Linked DNA regions of Homo sapiens. The protein of the gene in region 2 purifies or fractionates together with the protein of the main gene of each other region. This does not show direct contact. Each region holds a gene or a part of one and is shown on either strand. Other genes may lie near its edges.

What was found.
Region 1: the proteins of TBC1D14 (region 2) and TRAPPC6B purify together in Homo sapiens (affinity purification with mass spectrometry; 2 studies listed by BioGRID and IntAct, with this or other methods). This does not show direct contact.
Region 3: the proteins of TBC1D14 (region 2) and TCHH purify together in Homo sapiens (affinity purification with mass spectrometry; one large-scale study listed by BioGRID and IntAct). This does not show direct contact.
Region 4: the proteins of TBC1D14 (region 2) and VILL purify together in Homo sapiens (affinity purification with mass spectrometry; one large-scale study listed by BioGRID and IntAct). This does not show direct contact.
Region 5: the proteins of TBC1D14 (region 2) and RAB11FIP3 purify together in Homo sapiens (pull-down; one study listed by IntAct). This does not show direct contact.

Annotation. Positions count from the first base shown.
Region 1 is NC_000014.9:39,149,635-39,153,918, forward strand, and holds part of TRAPPC6B (trafficking protein particle complex subunit 6B), read right to left. Parts: intron 2,206-4,284; coding exon 2,112-2,205; intron 748-2,111; coding exon 716-747; 3' UTR 1-715. UniProt on the Homo sapiens protein: Component of a transport protein particle (TRAPP) complex that may function in specific stages of inter-organelle traffic.
Region 2 is NC_000004.12:7,024,826-7,028,325, forward strand, and holds part of TBC1D14 (TBC1 domain family member 14), read left to right. Parts: intron 1-178; coding exon 179-437; intron 438-3,500. UniProt on the Homo sapiens protein: Plays a role in the regulation of starvation-induced autophagosome formation.
Region 3 is NC_000001.11:152,111,887-152,117,215, forward strand, and holds the start of TCHH (trichohyalin), read right to left. Parts: upstream 3,559-5,329; 5' UTR 3,505-3,558; intron 2,226-3,504; 5' UTR 2,195-2,225; coding exon 2,057-2,194; intron 1,193-2,056; coding exon 1-1,192. UniProt on the Homo sapiens protein: Intermediate filament-associated protein that associates in regular arrays with keratin intermediate filaments (KIF) of the inner root sheath cells of the hair follicle and the granular layer of the epidermis.
Region 4 is NC_000003.12:38,000,270-38,004,993, reverse strand, and holds part of VILL (villin-like protein), read right to left. Parts: intron 3,539-4,724; coding exon 3,401-3,538; intron 3,293-3,400; coding exon 3,134-3,292; intron 2,599-3,133; coding exon 2,419-2,598; intron 1,827-2,418; coding exon 1,681-1,826; intron 740-1,680; coding exon 595-739; intron 1-594. UniProt on the Homo sapiens protein: Possible tumor suppressor.
Region 5 is NC_000016.10:431,492-436,265, reverse strand, and holds part of RAB11FIP3 (rab11 family-interacting protein 3), read right to left. Parts: intron 1-4,774. UniProt on the Homo sapiens protein: Downstream effector molecule for Rab11 GTPase which is involved in endocytic trafficking, cytokinesis and intracellular ciliogenesis by participating in membrane delivery. Recruited by Rab11 to endosomes where it links Rab11 to dynein motor complex.

The DNA.
Region 1 (4,284 bases), on a different chromosome or scaffold from region 2:
AGAAGTTGAAAGTCAAAACTGTAACAGGAATAAATACAAAAATTCTTTCCAAACATACCTAATATTCTTTGGCCCTAGAGTCACTGAATTCACATTTAAACTAATCTATATTTCATTTTGATTACATTAATGGAGCTCTGAAGGAATGAAACCTATTAAAGAAAAATTAAATTTATAAACAATTTAGGCAGTCATATATGTATTTATATATACACACATACAATGTATATATGAAATCCTTATACAGGTGTAAACATTCTTAATAAATTATAAGCAATAAAATAAAAAAAATTTAGTATGTTTGCTTTTTAAAATAAAACAAATTCATACTTTATCAAAATTTGTTCATTCTTCTCACAAATAATTCTGTTGGTACATAATTTTCTCTCATGCTAATTCAACAAACCCTGAGCTTTGTTTCTCCATCTATGGCTAAATACATATCACTCTAACCAAATAAAAAGGTTTAAAATAAGGGCCCTGCATCTTGGTGTCTGGTTATTTGAAATCCGGTTTTCATTTTGAATAGTTTTGGTTAAGTGTATGTCATGGCAGAATGTCCCTTCATCTCCTTTGATCTGTGTTAAATTGATAAAAATACATGCTTACTCCTGTACAAACATCGAACAATGTAATTAAATCATCACTACTTGAAATACTTTTACATGAATAATTTATCTCTTTACACTGTTGAAGCCTTGCATTTCAGTATGTTCTACAGCTTCTGTATCATCACCTGAAATTTGCCTAAAAAAAAAAATACAAATAATTCTTTGATTTTAGATACAAAGAAAACAAGTCTAAACATCAATTTTCTGTTCCATATAGGAAATAGTTTCAGTCAAGAAATCTGCTATGTCAAAAACTTTTTCGCATTCTTCATAATATTCAATAAAGTCAATTCTATTTTTTCTTTTTTTTTGAGATGGAGTCTTGCTCTGTTGCCCAGGCTGGAGTGCAGTGGCACGATCTCTGCTCACTGCAACCTCCACCTCCTGGGTTCAAGTGATTCTCCTGCCTCAGCCTCCTGAGTAGCTGGGACTACAGGCGTCTGTCACCACGCCCAGCTAATTTTTGTATTTTTAGTAGAGACAGGGTTTCACCTTATTGGCCAGGCTGGTCTCAAACTCCTGACCTCATGATACGCCCACCTCGGCCTCCCAAAGTGCTGAGCTTACAGGTGTGAGGCACCACACCCGGCCAGTCAATTCTATTTTTATGGGATGATTATATGGTTTGTTGAGTAAGCACTTTTGTTTCTCTTTATGAATCCTACATTTGGGTACAGTATTTCATGGCTAATGATCATTGTAAATTGAAAAGAAATACAATAAAGCTCAAGTCCATTTTTTCTTGGTTGGTAGCTCTGGTGAAAAGATCTTTAGGGAGACATTTAGTGATAAAAGAATATTTGGTTTTACTTAGCTTGATATAATAGACATATCCTAAACAATTGTTTAAAAATAGCATTTTCGGGCCGGGCGCGGTGGTTCATGCCTGTAATCCCAGCACTTTGGGAGGCCGAGGCAGACGGATCACAAGGTCAGGAGATGGAGACCATCCTGGCTAACACGGTGAAACCCATCTCTACTAAAAATACAAAAAATTAGCTGGGCGTGGTGGCAGGCAACTGTAGTCCCAGCTACTCGGGAGGTTGAGGCAGGAGAATGGCGTGAACCCGGGAGGTGGAGCTTGCAGTGAGCCGAGATTGTGCCACTGCACTCCAGCCTGGGCAACAGAGCGAGACTCCGTCTCAAAAAAAAAAAAAAAAAAAAAAAATAGCATTTTCAATGTTCTAGGGAAATTTGCTATCTTAAAACACTGCAGGAGATATTCAGAAGAATATCTTTAAAAAAGTTACAGTTTGAATAACTTTAGAAAAGTTAAAAATCATCCCTTAAATTGTCTTATAAATTTGGATTTTAGTCCATTATTCAAAAATTACTGAAAATGAATGTAGTATGCTACATATTACTACACTAAAGTGTTACATTGATAAAACTAAAATGAAAGTTTCAGCATTTTAAATTTCCTCTCAGTTAAATTAAAAAAAAAAACAGACCTGAAAACAAATTACTAAAACATTTGTAAGAAAGGCGAATTCAACTTACAAGCAGGCATTGAAGACACTTCAGCTGTTACAATACTTTTTATTCCCAAGTTTGATAAGCCACCTCTGATTAAGCCACACGTAAATGCTAAATACTAAAAGGAAAAAAAATCATTAAAAATAGTAAGGATTTACTAAAATAGTAAAGCTATTGATAAATACAACATTACATGATTTATCATCAGTAAGTCATTCCTGTTTAAAAAAAGGATTTTGAAGAACTGTTCAAATTACTGAAAAATATTGATATATTTCCCAGCTCCCTGGAAACTAAAGCATGGACGTAGGACTTAAGACTTAAGCTCAGCCAATTAAGTACTCCAGTCCAGGACTGTGAATCTAGACTCAGTGACAAAAACAAGCCAGAAACTGATCAGAATTAGTTCTGGAGGCAGTAAAGGTAGTTTGTGTCTACAGTCCCTGCTGCCTGCAGGATTCTAAGTAGATACAGTCTGCAGAGTGACTTGGCTATCTTACTGGCTGCCTTAACCTCCCCTGGTTATTGCCTATTCTTTGAGCTTATCAATTTTGTTAGCTTACAAGCAGAATTTCTTTCCCCTATTTACAACCAAGAATCTTGACTTGTTCAAGACTTATAGCTTGCCACAACAAAGAATTATCTGGTTGAAAGTATCAACAGTTTGGACGTTGAGAAACCCTGTCATATAGAAACAAAGAAAGGGAATAGGGCTGAGCTACAAAACCAAAAGTCATGACAAGAACTGGATTGAAAAATTAGCAATTCAGGGAATTTTTGATTACCCACATCTATACTGCATGATGTTCAACATACTACATTATCTACGAATAATATAAAATATTATCTTATAAATAATATACATAAATGGGCACTAATAAGTAACTAGATCTGAGTCATGAAATTTTAAGCTGGAAGAGGCCTTAGAGATTGTTCATCCCAAGAGTTCTTAATCGGGGAATTTGTGACCCCTATGAAAATAAAAACCATGTATATGTGCGTATTTATGGGGAAAGGTGTTCCAGTTCTCAAAGATGTCCATAACTCAAAATAGTTAGAAATCACTGAATTGGTCCAACTTACTCTTTTCACAGCTGAAGAAACCAAGATCCCAAAAAGTTAAGTGAGAACCAGAAATATTAAACTAAGAAGTTAGTAAAAAAGAGAAAATATGCCAGGCATGGCCTATAATCCCAGCACTTTGGGAGGCTGTAATCCCAGCATTTTGGGTGGCTTTTGTAATCACGTCTGTAATCCCAGCACTTTGGGAGGCTGTAATCCCAGCATTTTGGGTGGCTTTTGTAATCACGTCTGTAATCCGAGCACTTTGGGAGGCTGAGGTGGGTGGATCACGAGGTCAGGAGTTTGAGACTAGCCTCGCCAACATGGTGAAACCCTGTCTCTACTAAAGATACAAAAAATTAGCCAGGCATGGTGGCGCACACCTGTAATCCCAGCTACTCAGGAGGCTGAGGCAGGAGAATCACTTGAACCCAGGAGGCAGAGGTTGCAGTGAGTCTCACACTCTGTCCGAAAAAAAAAAAAAAGAGAGAAAATATACACATTAACCATAAAAATGTAATTAGAGCCTGGATACCCCAAAAATATAGAAAATAGGCAATCAGGCCGGATGCAGTGGCTCACACCTGTAATCCCAACACACTGGGAGGCCGAGGTGAGGTGATCACTTGAGCCCAGGAGTTCAAGACGAGCCTGGGCAACATCGTGGGATCCCATCTCTAAAAAATTTTTTTAAAAATTAGCCAGGCATGGTGGCCCACACCTGCAGTCCTACCTCCTTGGGTGACTGAAGTGGGAGGATCACTTGAGCCCGGGGGGGTCAAGGTCAAGATAGGCCATGATTGTACCACTACACTCCAGCCTAGATGACAGAGCAAGACCTTGTCTTAAAAAAAAAAAAAAAGTGATCTACCATACATCTACATTTCACTGTCATTTAGTTATAGTGTTTCTTTTTTTTCTTTTTTTTTTTTTTTGAGATGGAGTTTTGCTCTTATACCCCAGGCTGGAGTGCAATGATAGCACGATCTCAGCTCACTGCAACTTCTGCCTCCCGGGTTCAAGTGATTCTCCTGCCTCAGCCTCCCGAATAGCTGGGATTGCAGGCGCTCGCCAGAACGTCCAGCTATTTTTCATATTTTTAGTAGAGAAAGGGTTTCCCCATGCTGGCCAAGCT
Region 2 (3,500 bases):
CTGTGTCCTGAGCGATGTTAGAATTACCCTTCAGTGTGAGTGCAGGCCTGGCCCTGGCCCCAGCTGTTGCCTGAAAGTGACTAGGGGAGTGTTTTTCATGGAATCAGACTGGAATTCACTGTTCTTTCTTTGTTAGGAGAGATTCAAAATCTGAAAAATTCCAACTTTTACCCCCTAGGATCTTTACCTTATATAGTAAATCTCTGCCCCTCGACCTGGCCTGTCGTATCTGGGACGTGTTCTGTCGCGATGGGGAAGAGTTCCTGTTCCGCACGGCCCTGGGCATCCTGAAGCTGTTCGAGGACATCCTGACCAAGATGGACTTCATTCACATGGCCCAGTTCCTGACCCGGCTGCCCGAGGACCTGCCCGCCGAGGAGCTGTTTGCCTCCATCGCCACGATCCAGATGCAGAGCCGAAACAAGAAGTGGGCTCAGGTCAGCGGGCTTTGTGTTCTTGGCTTCCCACAGCGTAGCCGGCAAGTGGCGCGACTCAGGAAGGCCCCTACGTAAAGTGCTGTCTGAGGACGTAGCCCCTTTGATGGAGTCCCTGGGCTGGAACTGAGGGGGGCCGGGTGGAGACGTGGCTGTGCCACAGGGCGTCTCGGCGGGTCGCCTCCTCTTTGGGTTTCTGTCAGCTGGATGGGGTGTGGATAATGAAAGCCTTCCCACCTCCTCTGCAGTGGCATTGGGAGGGTCAGCACTTGTATCATTATAGTGCTCTTTACATGTTAGAAAGTACTTTGTAAGCCACGTACCCCCCTTTTTAAAAAAAATAATGCCAGAGACAGAAAGCAAAGTGGACCCACTTACTGAGCCCCGTGGCCATGCCCTGTGGCAGGCTTTTGTGTGTGTCCTTGAGAAGGAAGTGGGATTACCCCCCTCTTACAACAAAGGGAGGCCCAGAGAGGAGGGCGCGGGTCCCTCCTGGGTCTTCCCATGCGCTGCTGTGCCCTCTCTGGGCTGAGTGCCCCAAACAGTGGCGCGGATAGTCCGTATCCCTTGGTTTCCCTCCAGGCATCCCTCCTAGGTCCTGTCCCCAGTGGGATTGACCTGCATTTCCTGTTCCGAGTCTTTGTCATACTAAAAAGGAAAAAAAAACCAGTTTGGGTTCTTGATCCTGCATACACTCTGCATTGGTTTGAAGTCCTTGTTGATTGACGTCTATGAAGACTTTTCCTTTTCTGTACGTGCTACACCATGCCTGGGGGATTTCTTTGTTTTGAGAGAGGGTCTCGCTCTGTCATCCAGGCTGGAGTGCAGCCCCCGCCTCCCAGGCTCAGGTGACCATCCCACCTCAGCCCCCCGAAATGTCTGTTCTTGATTTAACTTTTTTTTTTTTTAATGGAAGATTTAAAATATTTACAAAACTAGAACAGCATAAAATAATGCACCCCCACACGCCTGCTCTGCAGTGTCAGTGACTGTGGAAGCGCAGCGGCTGTTGGAGCTGCCTCCCACCTCTCCCCTTCCCACCATATTGAAGCGAGTCCCAGGCACCGTGTCACCTGTTGGTGTTAGCGATCTCTGACTCATATGGGCTCTTTTAACGTAACTGCAATACCGTTACCACTCAGCTACTAACTCCTTCCTATCATCAGATATCCAGTTTTCAAATTCAGATGTCATAAATGGCTTTATAGTTGGTTGGAATCAAGATCTAAATAAAGTCCATGCCTTGTGATTGGTTGAAAGCTCTGTTAAGCCTCTGTAATATCTATGCCACGCCACTTCTCACTTTTTAGCCCTCTCTTGCTTGCCTTTATTTGTCAAAGAAAACAGGTCATTTAGGCTGGGCACAGTGGCTCACACCTGTAATCCCAGCACTTTGGGAGGCCAAGGTTGGGGGATCACTAGAGCCTAGGAGTTTGAGACCAGCCTGGGCAACATAGTGAGACCCCGTCTCTACAAAAAATACAAAAATTAGCTGGGCATGGTGACGTATATCTGTAGTTCCAGCTGCTAGGGAGGCTGAGATGGGAGGACCATTTGAGCCTGGGAGGTCAAGGCTGCACTGGGCTGTGATTGCGGCACTGTGCTTCAGCCTAGGCAACAGAGGAAGACCCTGTCTTAAAAAAACAAACAAACAAACAAAAAAAACAGGTTGGCCAGGTGCAGTGGCTCACGCCTGTAATCTCAACACTTTGAGAGGCTGAGGCAGGTGGATCACGAGGTCAGGAGTTCAAGACAAGCCTGGCCAAGATGGTGAAAACCCATCTCTACTAAAAATACAAAAATTAGCCGGGCACGTTGGCAGGCTCCTGCAATCCCAGCTACTCGGGAGGCTGAGGTAGGAGAATTGCTAGAACCTGGGTGGCAGAGGTTGCAGTGAGCCAAGATCATGCCACTGCACTCCAGCCTGGGCAATAGAGTGAGACTCCATCTCAAAAAAACCCCAAAAAAGCAGGTCATTTGTCCTGTAACATTTCCCACTGGGGGAGAGTTTTATGGCATATACATATGTCACCCCCCCCACACACATCACACACCTATACGTACACAATCACCCCACACACACAATCACCTCCACGCACACACATTGCACATCCATTCACCCCCCATCTCACACACCCACACAATCACCCCCCACACACCTACACATACACAGTCACCCCACACATAGACACGCACAGATCACCCCCACGCACACTCATTGCACACCCACAGTCACACCCCTACACCTCACACCCAGTCACCCCACACACACATCACATACACAATCACCACACACCACAATCACCCGACACGCACATCACACACCCACCCACGCATACAATTACCCTACACAGTCACATCCACACACAATCACCCCACACACATCACACACCCCCACAATCACCCCACACAATCACACACCCACACAAAATCACCCCCCACACATCACACAACCACACACAATCACCCCCCACACATCACACACCCACATACACAATCACCCCACACACATCACACATCCATACACAATCACCCCCTACACATATCACACACCCTTAAATACACAGTCACCCCACACAGGCATACCCACACACACACAGATCACCCCCATGCACACACATTGCACACCCAGTCACCCACAATCACACACATACACAATCACCCCACACAGTTACCCACACGCACAGATCACCCCCCACACACACATTGCCCACCCCCCCACACATAGATCACCACTTACACATCACCCCACACACACCCACACATACATGCACACATCACACACCTACACATTGCATACCCACACACACACCTACAGATCACCCCCCACATACACCTATCACAGCCCCACACACACGTCACCCCACACATCACACCCACACGTACACATTACACACCCACACACCTCACATGCACATACACACCCACGTACAGGTGCAGGTCAGTCCCTGCGCATCCACATACTGCACACCCACATACACAGGAAAGGATTAAACCCAGATCAGCCATTTTGATCCTTGCATATTTTAGGGACTAGGTAAAAACTATTGGTTAAAACTGGGTCAG
Region 3 (5,329 bases), on a different chromosome or scaffold from region 2:
CGCGCCTCTCCTGCTCGTGCTTCTGCTCGTGCCTCTCCTCCTCCTGCTCGCGCCTCAGCTGCTGCTCGCGCCTCAGCTGCTGCTCGCGCCTCAGCTGCTGCTCGCGCCTCAGCTGCTGCTCGCGCCTCAGCTGCTGCTCGCGCCTCAGCTGCTGCTCGCGCCTCAGCTGCTGCTCGCGCCTCAGCTGCTGCTCGCGCCTCAGCTGCTGCTCGCGCCTCTCCTCCTCCTGCTCGCGCCTCAGCTGCTGCTCGCGCCTCTCCTCCTCCTGCTCGCGCCTCAGCTGCTGCTCGCGCCTCTCCTCCTGCTCGCGCCTCAGCTGCTGCTCGCGCCTCTCCTCCTGCTGCTCGCGCCTCTCCTGCTGCTCGCGCCTCTCCTCCTGCTGCTCGCGCCTCTCCTCCTCCTGCTTGCGCCTTAGTTGCTGCTCGCGCCTCAGCCTTTGCTGCTGCTGCTCTTCCTCCTGGCGCTCCCTCCTCAGCTCTTGCCGCTCCAGCTTCCGTAGCTGCTCTTCTTCCTCCTGGAGCTCTCTTTGCCGCTGCGGCTCCTCTTCCTGCAACTTCTCTTCTTCCTTCCGGAGCACTGTCTCGCGCTTCCTCCACTCTTTCTCTTCTTCCTCCTGGAACACTCTGTCTTGCCGCTCTCGCCTTTGCTGCTGTTTCTCCTCGCGGCCCTTCCTCCTCAGCTCCAGCAGCTCCCGCCTTCGCAGTTGCTCTTCGTCTGGAAACTCCTCAGTTTCGTGACCTTTGCAACTCTGCAGCTGCTCTTCCTCTGCACGGCGCTCTTCCCGTTCTTGCCATTCTTGCCTTTGCCGCCACAGCTCCTCGTCGCGGCGCTGCCTGTCGCGCTGTTCAAGTCGCTCTTGTTTCTCACTTTGCTCCTCTCCCTCAGCTAGCTCCCTCTCCTGTTCCTGCCTCTTCTGCCTGCGTCGTTGCCCAGGTTCTTCTTCCAGTTGTCTGTCCCGGGGCTCGAATCTCCTTTGGTCTTCTTCTTGCCTGCGATCTTGTAACAGGCTCTCCTTTCCGTCACACCGGGCTCGCTTCTCCTCATCCAGTCCCGTGGCCTGGCCGAGAGCATAGTAACAAGCTTGAGCCACTTTGAAAATAAATAGGAGGAATTCGTTGAAATCGACACGCCCATTACTGTCAAGATCCAGAAGTTCCAGGATCAGATCTACCGTCTTAGGGTCATGTGGTCTCTATAAAAATGGTGAAAACAAAAATTTTACAATGCACTATTTACAGGTGGTAAAATTATATTCACACATGATATATTTTATGCTATGCTGACATTCAAGAGACATTCAGAGCAATTAGAAAAATGTCCAGTGTGTATCAAGTTTTGTCCCCATGTAAAATGTGAACCCTCACTTTAAAGCATATATTCGTTTGAAATTTTTACATCTCGTAATTTAGTGCTGATCAAACCTAAGGAAGCAGGAAGAGAGACACAAAGTAGAATAGCAGGTAAGCCTACGCACCTTAGAGGCAGAGCCTGAGGTGAAGATTCAAAACAGCATCGTGAACTTGTGTGTAAAATTAACAAAGCTACTCAACATCAAGAAAGAATAACACAAGTTCGCTTTAATTGAGAAAGAATGAACTCATCCTTGAGAGAGATACAATAGAAATTTATGAGGATTTGCAGTAGCCATTTCTGTCTGAAGCAGCCAGTATTCTTGATTTGGTTTCTATTCCATATTAGAAAACAGAACAAAACATTTACGGGTAGCACCATTTTAATAGAGATCAGGCTGATCTCAGTTTTGAAATTTGGAAACAAATTTAAGTTCCTCCAAGTCTAGTGTGATTTGACATCTTTTGTGGTAATGTCCCATGAAGAGCTCATTCACATGGCCATGCCATCAAGTACATGAAATACTTTATTATTCAGACTACAATGTCAAGTAAGTACCTTTTGACTCAGAAATGAATGGGGGATGTAGTGTAGACCTGTTGTGGTGTAAAATGAATATAAAACCACCATTCCTTGCTCTGGTCTCCTCTGAGAATAAATCTCATAGCCTCAAGTCAATAGATCTCATTTTCTTGTTAGTTCTTACCCGAAGCACAGCTCCAAATTCCCTTTCAAGGAGGTTCTTCAGGTCTTTCTTAGTTAATGCTGCTCCATCACAATCATGAGAGACATACTGATTGAAAATTTCAGTGATGTCACAGATGCTTCTCAGAAGTGGAGACATTTTTTTTTCTTTCCTTCAAGTTCAAGTAAACCTAGAACAATAAAATAAGATCCAGAATCAAAATCCCGTTTCTGCTTTTGGGAAGGCTTCATTCACACTATTTCAGGCAGATCCCTAAATAATTTGAATTTATAGCGGTAATTTCAACCTGGACTTTCAGAGCACTTTAATATTTGAATATTGTATCAGAAAGAGAAAGAGCGATCCTGAGAAATTCCAAGCCAGGGAATCATCTTCAGACTATCCTGTTGTCAGCTTTTGATTGTCCACCCAATGTGGATTATCTATGCCCTTTTCTTCTGTCTTTCTTCCAGCTCTCCACCGTATTTCAGAGTAGAAAATTAAGAGAAGAGTGCAGAAATTAAAATTTTATATATGTCTACACACCTTCCTTTAAAGTTGAGCGAAGAGGACAGGTAAAAGCCAAAAGGTGAAGGAAGACTTGAGAGTATCTTAAAGTGGATAGAGGCCATGTCAGCAAAACAGTTGGTAGAAAATAGAACAATGAAAAGGGAATATGAATGATTCCTCAACATTACAGTCCATAAAGGATTTAGGAACTCTTATAGAATATAATTTGTAAGTCAGCAATTCTAAGATTAAATAGTACTTCTTCCTAGTCAAAAGATGGCATTGTAACATTCAGATACACAAATGCAGAAAACAGAGACTGTATATTACCTGCCTCAACTCAGATATAGTAAGATATTCGGATATTGAAGTATTGAAAGCTTCTGAGAGGTCCTTTCTAAACCAAACGGAATCCAGAAAACTGTGAATGATATTGGTTTTGTTAAACCCAAATGCATCATTGGAATCTTGGCTTTTTATAAAACATTAGCCAGCAGTAGATCAATGTTATAAGAATACATGGAATGGCTTTGCTGGTGGGATAAGTGTAGTCGTTCATCTAGCTGACTTCTTTATGTACTTCTCAACTCCAGTACCTTAAATGCTGTGACTGTATGAAGATGGCCCATATTAGGTAGAACCAATGTAAAAGAGAACAGAAGGCTGGCAAACTTTTGAGATAGCAGTTTTTAGGAAGATGAACCCTATCAGAGCCACACATGATCATCCTTGATGTGCAGAAGTATAGAGTTCAGAGCCCAAGGAGAAGGGTCATGCTTCAGTTCAAGTGATGGCTCCAACCATAAGAAGATGGGATAGAGTTAGTGATAGTTTATTTATCCCTGCAAAATACTGATACCTTCTGGCACATGGAACCTCCCCCCATATCCCAACATCTGAAATAGCTATAAAAATGGAGAATCATAAAGAAGACCACGATCCCACAGAATGGGACTTACCCACTTCACCAGAGGAAGAAGTCGACAGTGCTTGCTGACACCACAGGCAAGTGTACTGGGTAACTGGGAGCTGGGCCTTTTATAGGGGTTTTAATTGTGCCCTGGAAAGCAACTTGGGAAGGAGACACCCACTCTGTGGGATGGCCTGATTCATTCCTAACCAAGCCCAGCTCCACCTCTGTCTCCACAAATGGCTTGTTTATCTCACTATTTGCTCACGTAGCTATTTGGCACGAGGTTCACAGACCTTGCCTCCTGACAGTCAGGGTACCAGCCCCACCTAACATGGGAGGGTAGAATATTTGGCAGAATCTCCAATTTTCTTAAATTGTTAAAAGTAAATTAAATAATAAAACAAAGGTATTAAATGTTCACAATCTTAATTGATTATTACTTCATTACAAAGGAGTAAACTCTAAGCCATTTGCTTTATAAAAGATACAATCTCTAGTTTGGGATTAAGCAGAAACTTTGAAATAAAGTGATGAAAACCAATTAATTTCTCCATGGGATGTGACAGTCCATGGTGAGCTGCTCATAAGCCCTGCCAGAAGCAGTTGCTTCAATTCTAGGGCAATGAGAGAGCTGTAAAGAATTGGTTAGTTTCTTCTCTAAAAATGCAGGTGGGAAAAATTTTTACATTTGTCTCCCGGGTCTTATGATGGTTTTCCTACAGATTGGGGACTGCCTCCTCAGTAAAGTTTGGAAGGGTACCTTGGAAATATATTTTTATTAAACCGTTCATAAGAAAACTTGAAATCTGTGAAATTTCATTCTTAGAGACATTAAACCTAAATGAAGTTTGTTCATTAGTTTTCTCATTAGCATATTGATGCCCCTGGGGAAAAAGAGCTGGTGTAATGTATTATTGTAGATATAATCATCCTGCTCAGCCTAAGTTACTAATGATTATGACACCTAAACACTTGAGTCTGCTTCTCCTGGAAGTACATTGAGGTAATTGGTCATTCTAGCCCATTATATCCATCAGGGCTTTCTCAATCTGGTTGATCATTTGCAAATTTCAGTGCTGTTTTATTGTAAGGAATTGGATTTTATCCATGGTTGTCAGTGACTTCCTTCCTTACATTTCAGACTATATGAAACTTTGGTTCATAATTTATGAAGACTATTAAATGATTCAATGGCTTCTCTGCACTTTTGTCTCCTCCTTTGTCCAACAGAGGCAAGTGTTGGTTTTCTGAATTTTGAGGCAACTGAACGTCCTTCAATGGCATGAGTGAAAATTTGGAATCTAAATCTTGATGGCTATTTCTTTATGTGCAGATTGGTCTAAATGATAATGGAGTTGAACTCTATTTGCCCCCTCACTTGCTGCCATCCTAGATGTGGGGTACAGAGGAAGGTAGAAGTGACAGGGAATGGGAAGACAATTATAAGCAATGCTAATTTCTGCCTCTTAAGGACTTCAACACTGAAGTCTACAATTTAGTGGTTTTCCTAGGACTGTCAGAACTGTCACTATTTCTTGGGCTCAGTTAACAAACTTGATGTGGCAATTCCTTGGTGAAGGGTGAAGACTTCTCATTTTTCCCCTTCTTTTTAGGGTTTTATGCAGCTCTCTTACTCTTTGGATTCTGAGATAGGACCATCATAAGCACTGACCACACTGCAATCATGTGATCATGGAAGCTCACTCTCTCACAGAGGGCACTAGCCTTTTGTATGAGTGTTCTTCAAGGAATAACCTGGGCAAGGACTGCCTTATGTCTGCTTTTGTTTGTATCCTCCTGTGTGTGATCTATTGGGAAACCTCAGTTCAGGTGATGGGATGCATTTACATGACTCCATTACTTTCCTATAG
Region 4 (4,724 bases), on a different chromosome or scaffold from region 2:
CAGCCACGCACACCCGGCCAGTTATACCACTGTGCGCAGAAACACAGACCCACAAACACACCCATCCATCATTCGCCCACAGCCAGTCATAGTCTTGCTCACAGACACATTTTCACCAGTTGCCACTGGTCTGGCCAGTTCTAGCATCACGTGACCTCACAGTCACTGACAAAGTGTCACACACAGGTGCACGAAGGCAAACACTCACACCAAGCCACACACATGAATGATGCGATTGGGCATTCCAATCACAGTCACTCATGCAGCACCGACACATGCTCGGCCGCAGGCACTGTCGCTGGAGCCACACATAGTATCATAAGGCACACAGGGCCACACACAACTGCAAACATGGTCTCAGTTACCCCTGAGTTCCAACACACTCCTAATCTCCCGGAGTCTCACTGCTGCCACCTGGTGATGCACACTCATCCATGGTCTCATATGCACCGCAATGCAATTGCTCAGTGACAGGGTCAGACTCACCCACAGCCCTGTGTACAGAGGCAGATGGCTAGATACACACACACCCAGTTACACAAACAGAAACACACCCCCGTTCACAGCCCCACCAGGCAGGGATGGCCACCTTACCTCCTGCCAGGTGTCCAGTAACATGATGTCATACTTGTCCAGGTCCTCCTGGCTGAAGAACCCCACTTCTGCGAGGACCAGGCAGCCCATGTGGCTGGAGCACTCAAACAGTCGTGGCTGGAAGCTGGGGACCTCCTCAGGGAGCCTGGCCAGCACGGACAGCAAGGCTGTGAGCCACCCAGAGGGGCACCCCAGCCCATGGCACAAGTGCCCCACCCCAGGGCCTGGGAAGCCACTTCTCAGGAGTGGGAGCCCTGGGCCCTCCTCTGAGCCCCGTGGTTTCTCCCCGAGCACTCCGCTCTGCTCTGGGTACAGGGTCCCTCTCTGCTCATGGAGAAAGCTCTCGCCCCACCCAGCTGTGACGCAAGGTGCCCCATGAATTTCCCTAGGAGAGGGCTGCAGGGGTAGGGGAGGGCCTGAGCTGGAGTCTCGCCCTCCCTGGGATGGGAGGAGCTCCTCAGCCCACCCCTGGCAGAGAGTAGGTCTCCGGCCCAAAGTGGAAGGAGGCAAGCCAGGCTGGGAGAAGGAGACGGGAGTACTGAGCTCAGGAGAATTGTGGGGAGTGCAGCACATAAACCAAGCCCCACAGGCAGACCAAGAGCGACCAGGACTCAGCTCCCTCCTCCCCTTGAGGCCTCACTCCTACCTCCTACACACACCCTGTCCACTTACACACCACACACAACACCCTGAATACACCTGTTCTTGCACATCCACACACACTGTATACCCACACATCATATGACACTGTATACACACACACTGGGCACCGTGATCCCTGAGGACTGTAGGGTGGGGAAGGGTGCTTTGTCCCCTGGCCCAGGACCAGGACAATGCAGGGAGGGGATGCTGCCAGCAGAGGTCGCCACTGCCCCCACTCTCCCCAGCATCTGAGAGACGCAAGTTACCCAGGCCTGGGAGCGAAGCGTGGGCTGTACTTGTGGGAGCCTCTGTGAGTGGGAAACTGAGAGTCCTTGGTTCTAGTCTCGTCTTGCCAGCTCTCTGTGTGAATCCCAGTCACCCACCCTCCTCTCTGGGCCTCAATTCCTCCTCTGGGTAAGAACACTCTCCTCCCAACCCTGTTACCTCTTGTTGCTGGGGTAGGGGGCCCGGCCTCCCAGGGCCTCCCAGAAGTGGGGAGGCTCCTGACCCTCCAGCACCGTTTCCTCATTCTTCCTGGAAATGACAGTGACCACCACCCGTGCCATCTCACGCTGATCACCATTACAGCCCTAGCAGGCAAAGAGATGGCTCAGGCCCTGCATGAGGAGGGGCCTTCACCTCCGGCCCCACGTCCCGTTCACAGGGTGTATGGGGTGGGGCTGGGCCCAAGTCACAGGAGGCCTAAGCTGACAGCAGGACACCAGTGAACAAGGCATCTTCCTCACCCTACAGGCCTGTGTCCCCAGTTGATCTGGATCGCAGGGTCTGGGACCCTCGCAGGGTCCAGAGCATGGGATAGGAGGCCCCCAGGCTTAGAGGGTCAGTCATAGTTTATGCTGAATATTAGAGAAAACTCCAGCAAACTGGCATAGGCCTCCCCTTTTCCCAAGAGACCTGGGAAGGGACATGCCCTGTGCTCCAGGCAGTAAGGAGGGGAGGCGGCCTGGGCCTGGCTCTGACCTGCGGACTCTCAGGTCCACCTGTCACTTTGTAACTTTCCCCAAGTTCTAGAGGGGACCCTGTGGCTTCTTCCCCTCCCCATTCCCCCCATCGGCCTATCTGAGGCTGGACTCAAAGTCTGCATGCCCTGTGGAGAGGACCCACCCCCAGCCTGGCACCACTACATCTGGGCATGAATCAAGTGGTCAGTGCTGTGGGTACCTTCCCAAACCAGAGGTAGCAGACGCTGGCTGTGACCAGCAAGAAGATGTCACTGGAGTTGAGGGATGAGGCACGGGCTGGCACCTCCATGGTCCTGGTGTTGTGGCTGTCAGTGCCTTGCACTTGGAAAAGCCTTGTGGTGGATGCTGACTGCCCCTTTCCATGGTGCCCAGCTCTCTCCTATAGGAGAGCAAGGCCTCAGGCTGGGCAAGGGCTCCCAGGGGCGCCTTCCTGTCCCAGTGTGGGACATATTGCCTCAGAGCTCAGGGACCCTTGCTTGAAGCCATCAAGGCCCTCACTGGTGATTTCACATGAGGAGTACAGGACCCTCTAAGTGTGGAGTGCAGGAATCCCATCAGTCTGGGACAGGGACAGACCCTTTTTAAATGGACCTTTCCCCCCATCTCTGAGTGGTTGGGGCATGGGTGCTCAGGCCTTGGAGGTGGAAAGTGGGGACCAGGTTTGCTAGTGTGCAGCCCCAGGCAAGCCCCTGGCTCCCTTTCAACTCAAATTCCTCATCTGGCTCTGGGACTGGGGAGGGAAACTCAGGCAGGGGGCCAACCTTGGAGCTCCTGGGCCTTGGACAAGCTCTGGGAAACTAGGGGATGATAAGCAGGCCCCAGGCCCAAAGAGAAGGTGCTTAGAAGTGTGTGCGGGGGCCATGGCCCATGCAGAACTGGGCAGGCTGTGGCCAGAGTGGCAAGGTGAGACCTACCTGGAAGATCACCAGCTGGCCCTGGAAGATGGCGAGGAAGTGGGGGGGCTCGCTGCCCATGGTCACATGCTCCTGTACTAGGACGCCACCATACATGACATCTAGTTCCTCAGCGTTGCTGTTCAGGGCCTCAATCTCATCCGCAGTGGCCTGGTGGCCCTGCAGGTGGGGGCAGTGAGTGAGGGCCTGGCCCAGCTCTCACATTTCACTCCCAGAGCCCAGCCCTTGGGCTTTAAGGTGAGTGCTGCCTCCCTCAGGCTGGCACACCTGCCATAGGTACAGGATGTACTGGACACGGCCCAGCCTCTGGTATGTGTAGAGCACAAGGTAGCAGTTGCCTGCACACAGCTGTCCATGACGCTTGGGGTCCACGGGCTGCCTGTGTAAGTCCTGGATGCACCACACCTGGGGAATAAGGGACCAATGGGCACAGGTGGCTGCTCTTCCTGAACCAGCCCACCCATCCTGTACCCAACCGGAAAGCTCTCCCCAGCCTCTGAGGCCTTCCTCATCCACGCAGGCCAGGGGCCCACCCTCAGCTCCAGGCCCATTCTGGGCCTTGTGCTGGGCTTTGTACAAGGATCTGCAGGTGACCCTTTCCCCACGGACCCCTGAAACCCACCACACTTGGGAGATGGGCCCAATCCCAGCCACATGCCCAGCCCTAGTCCCAACCCCACCAGCCACAACCCTGGTTAGGGGCAGTTCAGTCCCCTCCCAGCTGCTCGCTGCTCAGGCCAGGGCAACAGAAGCCGGGCGGAAAGGGAAGCCTTGGAGCTCTTGAATGAATTCCCTTTTATCCAGTGTCATTTAGAAAACACAAAGCCTGTTCAAAGACTGAAGGGGAAACACTGTCTCACATCTGTCAGTGTAGTTTCTTCTTCCTGTGGGTGGCAGAGCCTGGAGCCAGGCGGACTCTGGTCAAATCCCAGGTAGGCCCTGTGTTGGCAGTGACATTGTTCTAAGCTTCGGGCCTTTCCCACCTGTATATTGGGGATGATGACGCCTCCCTTACCTCACCTCTGCATGGCAGGAGACAATGCCTGGGTGTCCTTTCCCACACTGACCCTGACAGTTGTCCCTGGGGAGCCGACCTCCAGACCAGAGCAGCCAGAGCCCTGTCTTTCACAAAAGTGGCTGACTTGACTACAGGCCACCTAACAGTGGCAATTACCGGGCAGCCAGGACCCCTGGCTCAGGCCCTGTCTCTGCCTGCCTGTCCACTGCCTACCAGGAGGGATCCTGTCCCTGACTTTGTGCTTGGCACCTGAGTCCCAGGGCTCTCTTTCCCTCCGTCCCTCGCCTTTCCTTCTGCTTTCCTGTCTCCCTCTCCCACTGTCTGGCTCTCTGTCTCTCTCTGTGTATCCCATCTATCACTGACCCTCCCTCTCTTCTCCCTGTACCCCCTCTCTCCCTGCTCTTCCTCCACCCCACCTCCTCCTCCCTTCCCTCTGCCTCCTCCTCATCCCCTGTCCTTCCCAGTCTTTTCTTCTCTGTCTCTCTTTGTGCTCCTTCCCTGTCTTCCTCTTTCCCTGTCTCCCCCTTCTTCCCCCTTGCCCCATCTCCTCCTCTCTCAGTCTCTTCCCACTCA
Region 5 (4,774 bases), on a different chromosome or scaffold from region 2:
GCGATCTTGGCTCACTGTAACCTCCGCCTCTCGGATTCAAGCAATTCTCCTGCCTCAACCCCCGAGTAGCTGGAATTACAGGCGCCTGCCACCACGCCCGGCTAATTTTTTGTACTTTTAGCAGGGACAGGGTTTCACCATGTTAGCCAGGCTGGTCTCGAACTCCTGACCTTGTGAGTCGCCGGCGTCGGCCTCCCAAAGTGCTGGGATTACAGGTGTGAGTCACCGTGCCTGGCCAATGATCCCATCTCTTTTTTTCCTTCTCCAAGAAGCAGGAATTACAGGCATTTTCTAATATGCATTTCTCCAAATATCAGTAAAAATAGCCCATCTTCATAAAGCATCTGCAGATGCAAATTCAATGTTCTATCTAGTTCTTTAATTTACTAGAAAATCCAAGTTTCTTTAGATGTATTTTGTATATTTTATATGAACCTTAATGAAGTCAAAGTATGTAAATATTTTATCTTTAGGGTTTACTTAAATTTTTTTATTTCTACCAACTGTAATGATTTTTTTTACTAGATTCCCTTCTGTACTGTTTGAACTCTATGCTATGTGCAAAGGCACTACTTTTCAAAATAATCAAAATCAGTAACACAACAGGAAATATAGCCAATACCTCAAATAAAACCCTTCCCACCATACGCCCTCTCCTACACACTCATATCTCCCAACACAAAACTAAAAGCACTTTTAATATTTCTTCAAAACTTCTTTCAATTCTACCTGGTTGTAAGTGTGATGTATATTTAGTACATCACTCTATCATAATAACTTAGAAGTGCTAATCTAAGTAAATTTGGAGCCTTTATAATTACCACTTTTATGAGCTACATAATAGACTTAAGTGGATGCCTAATCCTTTTGTCTGATATAACTAATGTTTACATTGAATGTTTCCAGAATTTAAACAAAATAAGTGCTTGGAAGAGAAGCAATCCATAAGCCTGGTGCCCTTAACAACCTTGTCTGCACCATCTACACAGAACTAAACTCTTCCTGTATGTTAGATCCTAAACTGGAACCAGAATAGTCCTTAACTTTTTTTTTTTTTTTTTGAGACGGAGTCTCGCTCTGTCGCCCAGGCTGGAGTGCAGTGGCAAGATCTCGACTCACTGCAACCTCCACCTCTGAGCTTCAAGCAATTCTCCTGCCTCAGCCTCCCGAGTAGCTGGGACTATAGGCACCCGCCACTACGCCCGGCTAATTTTTTGTATTTTTCGTAGAGACGGGGTTTCACCATGTTGGTTAGGCTAGTCTCGATCTCTTGACCTCGTGATCCACCTGCCTTGGCCTCCCAAAGTGCTGGGATTACAGGCGTGAGCCACCGCGCCTGGTCTAATTCTTGTATTTTTAGTAGACAGTAGACTTTAGATTTTACCATGTTGGCCAGCTGGTCTTAAACTCCTGACATCAAGTGATCTGCCCACCTCGGCTTCCCAAAGTGCTGGGATTACAGGTGTGAGCCACTGCGTCCGGCCATCCTTAACAATTCTGAATCTTCCTGGGGACAAGTAAACCTTAGGTTTCCATTAAAGTATACATCTGCCAGGCCAGTGGCTCATGCTTGTAATCCTAGCACTTTGGGAGGCCAAGGTGGGAAGATCACTTGAGCCCAGGAGTTGGAGATCAACATGGCAAAACCCTGTCTCTATAAAAAATAGAAAAATTAGGCAGGTGTGGTAACACGTACCTGTAGTCCCAGCTACCTGGGAGGCTGAGATGGGAGGACCACCTGAGCCTGGGAGGTCAAGGCTGCAGTGACCAGTGATTGCACCACTGCACTCCAGCCTGGGCAACAGAGTGAGACTCTATATCAAAAAAATAAAGTATACATCTGGCAGGGTGCAGTGGCTCACGCTTGTAATCCCAGCACTTTGGGAGGCTGCGGCACGCAGATCACTTGAGGTCAGGAGCGCGAGACCAGCCTGGGCTAACATGGCGAAACCCCGCCTCTACTAAAAATACAAAAAATTAGCCGAGCATGGTGGCACATGCTTGTAATCCCAGCTACTAAGGAGGCTGAGGCAGGAGAATTGCTTGAACCCAGGAGGCGAAGGTTGCAGTGACCTAAAATCGTGCCATTGCACTCCAGCCTAGCCAACAATAGTGAACTCTGTCTCAAAAAATAAAGAAATTTTTAAATAAATAAATATACATCTGATATCAGAGACCTTCAATTTCAAAAAATTTAGGTCAACTACTATACAATCCAGCAATCCCACTACTGAGATTTATCCAAAGGAAAGGAAATCCATATACCACAGGGATGCCTGCACCCCATGTTTACTGCAGCACTGTTCTCAATAGCAAAGATATGGAATCAATCTAAGTGTCCATCAACAGTTGAATGGATAAAGAAAATGTAATATAGATACACAATGGAGTACTTTTTTTTTTTTTTTTTGAGACAGAGTCTCGCTCTGTCACCCAGACTGGAGTGCAGTGGCACGATCTCGGCTCACTGCAAGCTCCACCTCCCAGGTTCACGCCATTCTCCTGCCTCAGCCTCCCAAGTAGGTGGGTCTACAGGCGCCCGCAACCACACCCAGCTAATTTTTTTTTTTTTTGTATTTTTAGTAGAGACAGGGTTTCACCGTGTTAGCTAGGATGGTCTCGATCTCCTGACCTCGTGATCCGCCCGCCTTGGCCTTCCAAAGTGCTGAGATTACAGGCGTGAGCCACCGCATCCGGCCTGGAGTACTATTTGGCCACGTAAAAAAATGAAATCATGTCATTTGCAGCAACGTGGAAGGAAATGGAGGTCATTATGTGAAGTCAAGTAAGACAGGCAGAGAAAGACAAATATCACGTTTTTACTCTTATGTGGGAGCTAGAAAAGTGGATCTAATGGAGGTAGAGAATAGAGCGATTGATATCAGAGGCTGGGAAGCATCAGGAGGGTAAAGAGCACGGTTAATGGTTAGAAATATGCAATGAGCGGTGGCTCACGCCTGTAATCCCAGTACTTTGGGAGGCCCAGGTGGGCGGATCACCAGGTCAGGAGTTCGAGACCAGCCTGGCCAACATGGTGAAACCCTGTCTCTAGTAAAAATACAAAAATTAGCTGGGCATGCTGGCATGTACCTGTAATCCCAGCTATCAGGAGGCTGAGGCAGGAGAATGGCATCAACCCGGGAGGCAGAGCTTGCAGCGAGCTGAGATCGCGCCACTGCACTCCAGCCTGGGCAAGAGACAGAGACTATGTCTCAAAAAAAAAAAAAAAAAAAAAAAGATAAATATGGAGGTGACAGACACCCCAACTTGATCATTACAGTGTATGCCTGTAACAAAATACCACATGTACCCATCCCATGAATATGTACAAATATTTCTATCAATTAAAAAGAAACAGCTCAGGCTAGGGGCAATGGCTCATGCCTGTAATCCCAGCACTTTGGGAGGCCAAGGCGGGTGGATCACGAGGTCAAGAGTTTGAGACCAGCCTGGCCAACGTGACAAAACCCCATCTCTATTAAAAATACAAAAATTTAGCCGGAGTGGTGGCAGGCGCCTGTAATCCCAGCTAAGTGGCTGAGGGAGTCTGAGGCAGGAGAATTGCTTGAACCCGGGAGGCAGAGACTGCACTGAGCCGAGATCGTACCACTGAACTCCAGCCTGGGCCACAGAGCGAGACCCTGTCACACACACACACACACAAAAAAAAAAAAAAAACCAGGTCAAAAAGCAGATTCAAAGCAACATGCATGCAAATTATAACATTTATCTATAATCAAGTATGTATTACATACATTTTAATTTACATATTAAATATTTAATTATCTCTTAATGATATTAATGGATGGGGGGATTACAAGGGCTCCTTATTTTTCTTATTTTATCTACTAGTATTTTACCTACTAGTTTTAGTTTCTTTTTAGTTTTTCGAGACAGTTTCACCCTTGTCGTCCAGGCTGGAGTGCAATGGCAAGATCTCAGCTCACTGCAACCTCTGCCTCCCAGGTTCAAGCGATTCTCCTGCCTCGACCTCTGAAGTACCTGGGATTATAGGCGCCTACCACCACACCCAGCTAATTTTTGTATTTTTAGTAGAGATGGGGTTTCACCATGTTGGCCAGGCTGGTCTCCTGATCTCAGATGATCCACCCGCCTTGGCCTCCCAAAGTGTTGGGATGACAGGTGTGAGTTACCGCGCCAGGCCAGTTTCTTTTAAAACAATGAACATCTATAAAAATAATTTAGCTTCACTGGGCGCCATAGCTCATGCCTATCATCCCAGCACTTTGGGAGGCCGAGGTGGGCGGATCATGCGGTCAGGAGATCAAGACCATACTGGCTAACACGGTGAAACCTCATCTCTAATAAAAATACAAAAAAATTAGCCGGGAGGGGTGGCGGGCGCCTGTAGTCCCAGCTACTCAGGAGGCTGAGGCAGGAGAATGGCATAAACCCGGGAGGCGGAGCTTGCAGCGAGCCAAGATCACGCCACTGCACTCCAGCCTGGGTGACAGAGCGAGACTCCATCTCAAAAAAAAAAAAAAATTTAGCTTCTACCCCAATATGATCTCAATTGTGTACTTTTATAGACAGTCACCTGTGTGTCTATGTCTGTGTTAAAAAAGGTCTGGGCCAGGTGCGGTGGCTCACATCTGTAATCCCAACACTTTGGGAGGCTGAGGCAGGTGGATCACTTGAGGTCTGGTGTTCGAGACCAGCCTAGTCAACACGGCGAAACCCCGTCTCTACTAAAAATATAAAAATTAGCCAGGCGTTGCACGCCTGTAGTCCAAGCTACTCAGGAGACTCAGGC